2 linked regions of the Homo sapiens genome follow. The protein of the gene in region 2 interacts with the protein of the main gene of each other region in a pairwise test. Each region holds a gene or a part of one and is shown on either strand. Other genes may lie near its edges. The genes, in order: RNF216 and TLR5.

Region 1 (3,820 bases), on a different chromosome or scaffold from region 2:
GCCCCTCTGCCCGGCTGCCCAGTCTGGGAAGTGAGGAGCGCCTCTTCCCGGCCACCATCCCTTCTAGGAAGTGAGGAGCGTCTCTGCCGGGCCACCCATCATCTGAGACGTGGGGAGCGCCTCTGCCCCGCCGCCCCATCTGGGATGTGAGGAGCGCCTCTGCCAGGCTGCGACCCCATCTGGGAGGTGAGCAGCGTCTCTGCCCGGCCGCCCCGTCTGAGAAGTGAGGAGCCCCTCCGCCCCGCAGCCACCCCATCTGAGAAGTGAGGAGCCCCTCCGCCCGGCAGCCGCCCCGTCCGGGAAGTGAGGAGCCCCTCCGCCCGGCAGCCGCCCCGTCCGGGAGGTGGGGAGCACCTCTGCCCGGCTGCCCCTTCTGGGAAGTGAGGAGCCCCTCTGCCCGGCCGCCACCCCGTCTGGGAGGTGTTCCCAACAGCTTATTGAGAACGGGCCATGATGACGATGACAGCTGTGTCGAATAGAAAAGGGGGAAATGTGGGGAAAAGATAGAGAAATCAGATTGTTGCTGTGTCTGTGTAGAAAGAAGTAGACATAGGAGACTCCATTTTGTTCTGTACTAAGAAAAATTCTTCCGCCTTGGGATGCTGTTGATCTATTACCTTACCCCCAACCCAGTGCTCTCTGAAACATGTGCTGTGTCCACTCAGGGTTAAATGGAATAAGGGCGGTGCAAGATGTGCTGTGTTAAACACATGCTTGAAGGCAGCATGCTTGTTAAGAGTCATCACCACTCCCTAATCTCAAGTACCCAGGGACACAAACACTGCGGAAGACCCCAGGGTCCTCTGCCTAGGAAAACCAGAGACCTTTGTTCACTTGTTTATCTGCTGACCTTCCCTCCACTATTGTCCTGTGACCCTGCCTAATCCCCCTCTGCGAGAAACAACCAAGAATGATCAATTAAAAATAATAATAATAATAATAATAATAAATAAATAAATATAAATCTGATGACAGTGGTTGCCTCTGTACAGAGGTGGGATCAGACAAGGCCACTAATGGCTCCAACAGTGTCATTGTACAAATTAGAAAAAAGTACCTACATTGGGCTAAGCACCTGGAAAGGGGCCCTTCCTTCTCAGCCTTGGCAGGGAAGAAACTCACCTGCAACCTTGACTGAGAACTACAGTATAAGATAGGAACTTTGGGGAAAGGTGTTTAGTGAACTATTTTGTTTAAATTTACCACCAGGCTGAGCACGGTGGCTTATGGCTGTAATCCCAGCACTTTGAGAGGTGGAGGTGAGCAGATCATGAGGTCAGGGTTTCAAGACCAGCCTGACCAACATGATGAAACCCTGTCTCTACTAAAAATACAAAAATTAGCCGGACAGGGTGGAGTACGCCTGTAATGCCAGCTACTCAGGAGACTGAGCAGGAGAACTGCTTGAACCTGGGAGGTGGAGACTGCTGTTTAAGCCAAGATCGCACCACTGCACTCTAGCCTGGGCAACAGAATAAGACTGTCTCCAAAAAAAAAAAAAAAAAAAAAAAAAAAAAATTACAATTATTTCACCTCTGCAGATTAGAAGGAGGGGAAAGAGTATATTTTTCATTTTATATTCTTCAGGAAAACTTATTTTTTAAAAAAGCATATTTACCACTTATAAAAAATTTTTTTAAAATAAGAGACAAGGTCCCACTCTGGCTCCCAGGCTGGAGTGCAGTAGCGTAACACAGCTCACTGCAGCCTTGAATTCCTGGACTCAGGCAATCCTCTTGCCTCAGCCTCCCAAAGTGCCAGAATTAAAGGTGTGAACCATATGTCTGGCCCGTATTTATCCCTTTTATAATGAAAATTAAGAAATATGGCTGGGAGCGGTGGCTCACACCTGTAATCCCAGCACTTTGGGAGGCCGAGGCGGGTGGATCACGAGGTCAGGAGATCGAGACCATCCTGGCTAACATGGTGAAACCCCATCTCTACTAAAAATACACAAAATTAGCCAGGCGTGCTGGCAGGCGCCTGTAGTCCCAGCTACTCGGGAGGCTGAGGCAGGAGAATGGCCTGAACCTGGGAGGCGGAGCTTGCAGTGAGCCGAGATCGCACCACTGGACTCCAGTCTGGGAGACAGAGTGAGACTCCGTCTCAAAAAAAAAAAAAAAAAAAAAAAAATGCTTCCATGTATTTCTCCAAACAGAGTGGTTGCAGAACATTTTGTTACAATCGTAGGGAAGAAAATGTCTTAACATCTTGACTAAAACACAGGTAGTATCAACGCTTAGAAACAACTCAGTTATCATAATTCTATAACCATGCAGTATTCCATAAAATCCAGAAAACAGTCTGTGTATCACTAATGTCAGAACGAACAAGGTCATTAAAAAAGACATAATGCCAAGTGAAATAAGCCAGTCAGAAAAGAACAAACACATGAGGTCCCTGATAGTAGCCAAATCCATATAGAAAGAAAGTAGGATGGTGGGTGCCACTGGCTTGGGAAGGGGATGGGGAGTGAGTGTTTAATGCGGACAGAGTTTCAGTTTGAGAAGATGAAAGAGTTCTGAAGATGGATGGTGGTGATAGTTGCATAATAATGTGAATTTACTTAACAACACCAAATTGTATATTTAAAAATGATTAAAATGGTAAATTTTTTATTACATATATTTTACCACCACCACCACCACCACAAAAAAAGCATGGTAGTATACTTACACATTCAGATCATAATAATTCTTAAAATGAATTATTTCCTCAATAAACCCATTTGCTACATCTGGAAATCTTGCTTCCTAGAAACAAATAAGAACATAATTTATATTTCATTCACTAGAATGGTTTCAAATGGCAATACAAGACAGATGGCAAAAAGTATAATAAAATGACTAAAGACTAGAAAAGGGCTGTGAAGCAGGTCTGTGTGTGTCTTCAAATTCAACACTAGTTCCCAGATTCATCTGTCTACATAGAAGATGAGGTCTAGAAAGGTCTTGAGAGATCTGGTTCTCTGTCCCCATTTTACAGATCCATTCTTCATTGCTTCAACAAATATTGAGCATCTCTGTCTAGACAAAGGGAATCCAAACACAAATAAGTTACAATCTCATGCCAGCCCTCAAGCAGCACACAACCTAGTGCCTAGATAAAAACACCTGGGTGGCCGGGTGCAGTGGCTCATGCCTATAATCGAAGCACTTTGGGAGGTCGAGGCAGGCGGATCACCTGAGGTCAGGAGTTCAAAACCAGCCTGGCCAACATGGTGAAACCCCGTCTCTACTAAAAAAATACAAAAATTAGCCAGACGTGGTGGTATGTGCCTGTGATCCCAGCTACTCGGGAGGCAGAGACAGAAGAATCGCTTGAACCCAGGAGGCGGAGGTTGCAGTGAGCTGAGATCGCACCACTGTACCCCAGCCTGGGTGACAGAGTGAGACTCGGTCTCAAAAAAAAAACAAACCAAAAACAAAACAAAAAAAACCCGCCTGGGTAAAGTAGGGTTAACGGACTTGTTTGAAGGCAAATAGTGGCTACCAGATGTAACACCTTTTTTTTTTTTTTTTTTTTTTTTTTTTTTTTTTTTTTGTGAGATAGAGTCTCACTCTGTCGCCCAGGCTGGAGTGCAGTGGCACGATCCTGACTCACTGCAAGCTCTGCCTCCTGGGTTCACACCATTCTCCTGCCTCAGCCTCCCAAGAAGTTGGGACTACAGGCGCCCGCCACCACGCCCGGCTAATTTTTAATTTTTTTAGTAGAGACAGGGTTTCACCGTGTTAGCCAGGATGGTCTTGATATCCTGATCTTGTGATCCACCCACCTTGGCCTCCCAAAGTGCTGGGATTACAGGTGTGAGCCAGCACGC
Region 2 (3,820 bases):
CAGGGAGAAGACAAACCCATGTGAAAGATCCAGGTGTCTCACTGAACTTCTGGCCAGGCCAGCAAATGTGTTCTGGTCAGGATCTTTGATGTTATGGAAGCCAAACCCGGCACCCATGATGTGGTGGGCAAGAATCAAAGAGAAGGCCTGGCTTTTGCTGATGGCATTGCTAAAGTTTCCTGTGATGTCCACTGTCCAGCCATTTCCAGAAACATCTAGTATCTCCAGCACCATGTTTCTGAATGGGTTCATACATTTTCCCCAGTCCACTGAGACTCTGCTATACAAGCTATTAGCTGCGAGGCTAAAAAAGGAGAGCGTTTTCCCTTGTAGGGGCTCGAGCTCATGTTCACATACAAGGAATATTTGGTTGGAGGAAAAATCTATGGACTTTAAGGAATTCAACTTCCCAAATGAAGGATGAAGGTAAAGGCTACGAATCTGATTTTTGGATAGATCCAAGCGAGTTAAAGCCTTTAAATTTCTGAAATAACCATCTTTCAATACAGCATCAGAGAGACCACAGAAATACAGTCTAAGTTCAAACAGATGGAACAGTCCCTGAAAAGCATCTGGATGCAAGAAGTATATCTTACTACTTCCCAGGTCCAAGATTCTAAGGTTGGGCAGGTTTCTGAAGGCCTCCTTGTCAATAGTCAAGGGGGTATACTGGCTCCCGAGCTCCAGCAGCTGCAGCTGTTCCAGAAAGGGGAAGGATGAAGCAGTGACTGTCCTGATATAGTTGAAGCTCAGCAGGAGCCTCTCAGTGGTGTTGAGGACCTGGGGGACCTGGGTGAGGTTGCAGAAACGATAAAAGGCTATTCGGCCATCAAAGGAGCAGGAAGGAATTCCAAACACAGGACCGGCCATGAGCACCACTCCTAGGAGAAGGTCCAGGTGGTCTCCCATGATCCTATGGAGAAGAAGGGAGAATGAAAACACAGGCATTTAAGCTCGAGGTATTGCACTGGGGTCTTCAGATCTTGGGGGTATTCTCTATGATGTGCCTGCTCCCTTTGACCCCTTCATTCCTCTGACTCCACAGACGTGGCTGTTGGCAGATACAGACAAAACTATTCTTACTCTATTTCTGTTTTTTTTGAGACAGGGTCTTGCTCTGTTGCCCAGGCTGGAGTGCAGTGGCATGATCACAGCTCACTGCCACCTCCGCCTCCCGGGTTCAAGCCATCCTTCCATCTCAGCCTCCTGATTAGCTGGAACTACAGGCACGTGCCACTGTACCCGGCTAATTTTTGTATTTTTAGTAGAAATGGGGTTTCACCATGTTGCCCAGGCTGGTCTCCAACTTGTGGGCTCAAGTGACCTGCCTGCCTCAACCTCCCAAAGTGTTGGGATTACAGATGTGAGTCACCACACCTGGCCTATTCTTGCTCTCTATCAAACACTTACGTTGAATTTTCTGTATACTAGGCACTATTCTAGGTACTTAAAAAACATTTCACTTAATCTTTTCTTTTAAAAAAATTTTATTTATTATTCTAAATTAAAATAAAAATATAGAGATGGGGGTCTCGCTTTGTTGCCCATGCTGGTCTTCAACTCCTGAGCTCAAGCGATCCTCCTACCTTGGCCTCCCAACATGCTGGGATTACAGGCATGAGCCACTGCACCCTGCCTTCACTTAATCCTTATAATAACTCTATGTTTCTTCATTCATTCGTTTGTTTATTCATTCATGATTTGCTGAGGGGAGGTGGAGAAAACAGCAGGAAGAGACACAATGTTGCTTCACTTCAGCCGGGTACCCCGTTCCTAGCCCACAGAAAGCTCGGCTGATGAGTGGAAAATAAATTCACTGTTTTTCTCCCTTAATTTGTCTAGGCTACTGGCCCATCTCCATTTATCCGACCTTACTCCACACACAGTCCATCCCATCATGCAGAAATTGGGCACTTTCTGGCACCCCACAAAGAGCCAGATGTGATCGGTTTAATAAAAGTGTGATAAGTGCCTAGTGCTCGCCTGGCAGCTGTGTGATTGTGTGAGTGTACGACAATAAACAGAGACTGGCCCACTTGCTTAAGTCCTGTCGGGGAGCTAACCATCTGTCTGGGTTGAGTGTTTTTTTCATGGGTGCAGCAGAAATGGTGCTCAATGAACGTGTCTGGCTTATGTTCCAAGTATTGTGCTGGGTGCTATGAAGAGAAAACACACAAGGACCCCACCTGCAGAGAGCTTGGTGTCTATTATTTGCACAGCACCTCCATCTTTGGTGCCTACTATGCATTCCATTTGCTTTAAATGTAATGAAAGGCCTCTGTTGGAAGGTAAAGGAAGAGTTATATAGCTCAGAGGGCAGGAGAATGAGAGGAAAAATAAATGAAAGAAATAGGAAGAAGGCAATGGTTTATAAAGAGCATGAATCCCATGAGACACCATCACTGGCAAAAGTGTCAACACCAGGAGAGATTAAGCCTGGAGCAGTCACGGTGCTGGAGGTGGGCTAGCTCTGACGAGGTTGTGCTTTGTGCTGGGGCTGATGTATGGTGGGGTTTCCACAGAAACTGGGAGGCTGTGGCACACAAGCTACAGCAAATCAGAAGTAGGCATGGATGCCTGGATTGACTCAAAGTTTCAAACTCAGGCATCTAATAATCGTTAGGAAAAACTTGGTGAGAATGTTTATCACCACTCTGAATTTCTCCCCCATCTCAGTAAATGGCTTCACCATATCCATCCAGAGTCTCAGGGTGACAACACAGCAGAGTCTTTTAAACATCATTCTTTTAAACATCCCCCCAATATCCAATCCCTCAGCAAGTCCTGTTGGTGCCACCTCCCAAGCCTATCCACTGCCCTACTGTAAGCCGCCGCCATCTCTTTGCATGGGCCAGACTGGAGACTCCTCACTGGCTCTCTTATTTCTGGTCTTGCTTTCATTTTCCAGCCAGCAGCCAGCATGTTCTTTCAAAAACATAATCTGGTTTATATCATTCCTCTTTGTACAGGGCCCTTCCCTTCCTTCCTGCTGTACTTGGAATAAAATCCTGTGAGTACTTACATGATTCAGCTCTTGGCTGTCTTGTCAACATTATCTTGAATAGTTTTTCTCCTCAATAACTCATTAAAAAAATTTGCTGAGCACCCATTATGTGTCAGGCACTGTTTTATTTATTATTTATTTGAGACAGGGTCTCACACTGTCACCCAGGCTGGAGTGCAGCGGTGCTATCTCAGCTCACTGCAACCTCCGCCTCCCGGGTTCAAGTGATCCTCCCACCTCAGCCTCCTGAGTAGCTTGGATTAGAAATGTGTGCCAGCACGCCCAGCTAATTTTTGTATTTTTAGTAGAGATGGGGTTTCACCATGTTGGCCCAGGACGGTCTTGAACTCCTGACCTCAAGTGATCCACCGGCCTTGGCCTCTCAAAGTGCTGGGATTACAAACATGAGCCAGCACACCAAGCCTCAGGCATTGTTTTAGGAGCTGGAGATACAGCTGTGAGCAAAATGGACCAAGCCTGCCCTCATGGAGCTTACATTCTGGTGGACGGAAGAGGTGATAACAAAAGGAAGAGGAAATAGGTACTGACAGGCAGAGGTAAATGCAATGGAAGAAAGTAAAGTGGGAAAAAGGAGATGGGGGTGCCATGGCTCGGGTGGTGGCTGCTGTTTATAGAGAGGAGTCAGGAAGGGTGTCTCTGATGTAATGAGATTAGAGCAGGTGTCTAACAGAAGTAAGGAAAGGATGTGGAGAGGCCCAACGTTTGAGGGAAAGGAGCAGCCAGCACCAAGGTCCTAGGGTGGAAGTACCAGCCATCCTGGAATACACACATGGTACGCATTCCAAACTCTTTCCA

The links.
Region 1: the proteins of TLR5 (region 2) and RNF216 interact in a two-hybrid assay, tested with the Homo sapiens proteins (one study listed by BioGRID).

The regions. Positions count from the first base shown.
Region 1 is NC_000007.14:5,736,600-5,740,419, forward strand, and holds part of RNF216 (E3 ubiquitin-protein ligase RNF216), read right to left. Parts: intron 2,754-3,820; coding exon 2,677-2,753; intron 1-2,676.
Region 2 is NC_000001.11:223,112,123-223,115,942, forward strand, and holds part of TLR5 (toll-like receptor 5 precursor), read right to left. Parts: intron 914-3,820; 5' UTR 910-913; coding exon 1-909. UniProt on the Homo sapiens protein: Pattern recognition receptor (PRR) located on the cell surface that participates in the activation of innate immunity and inflammatory response.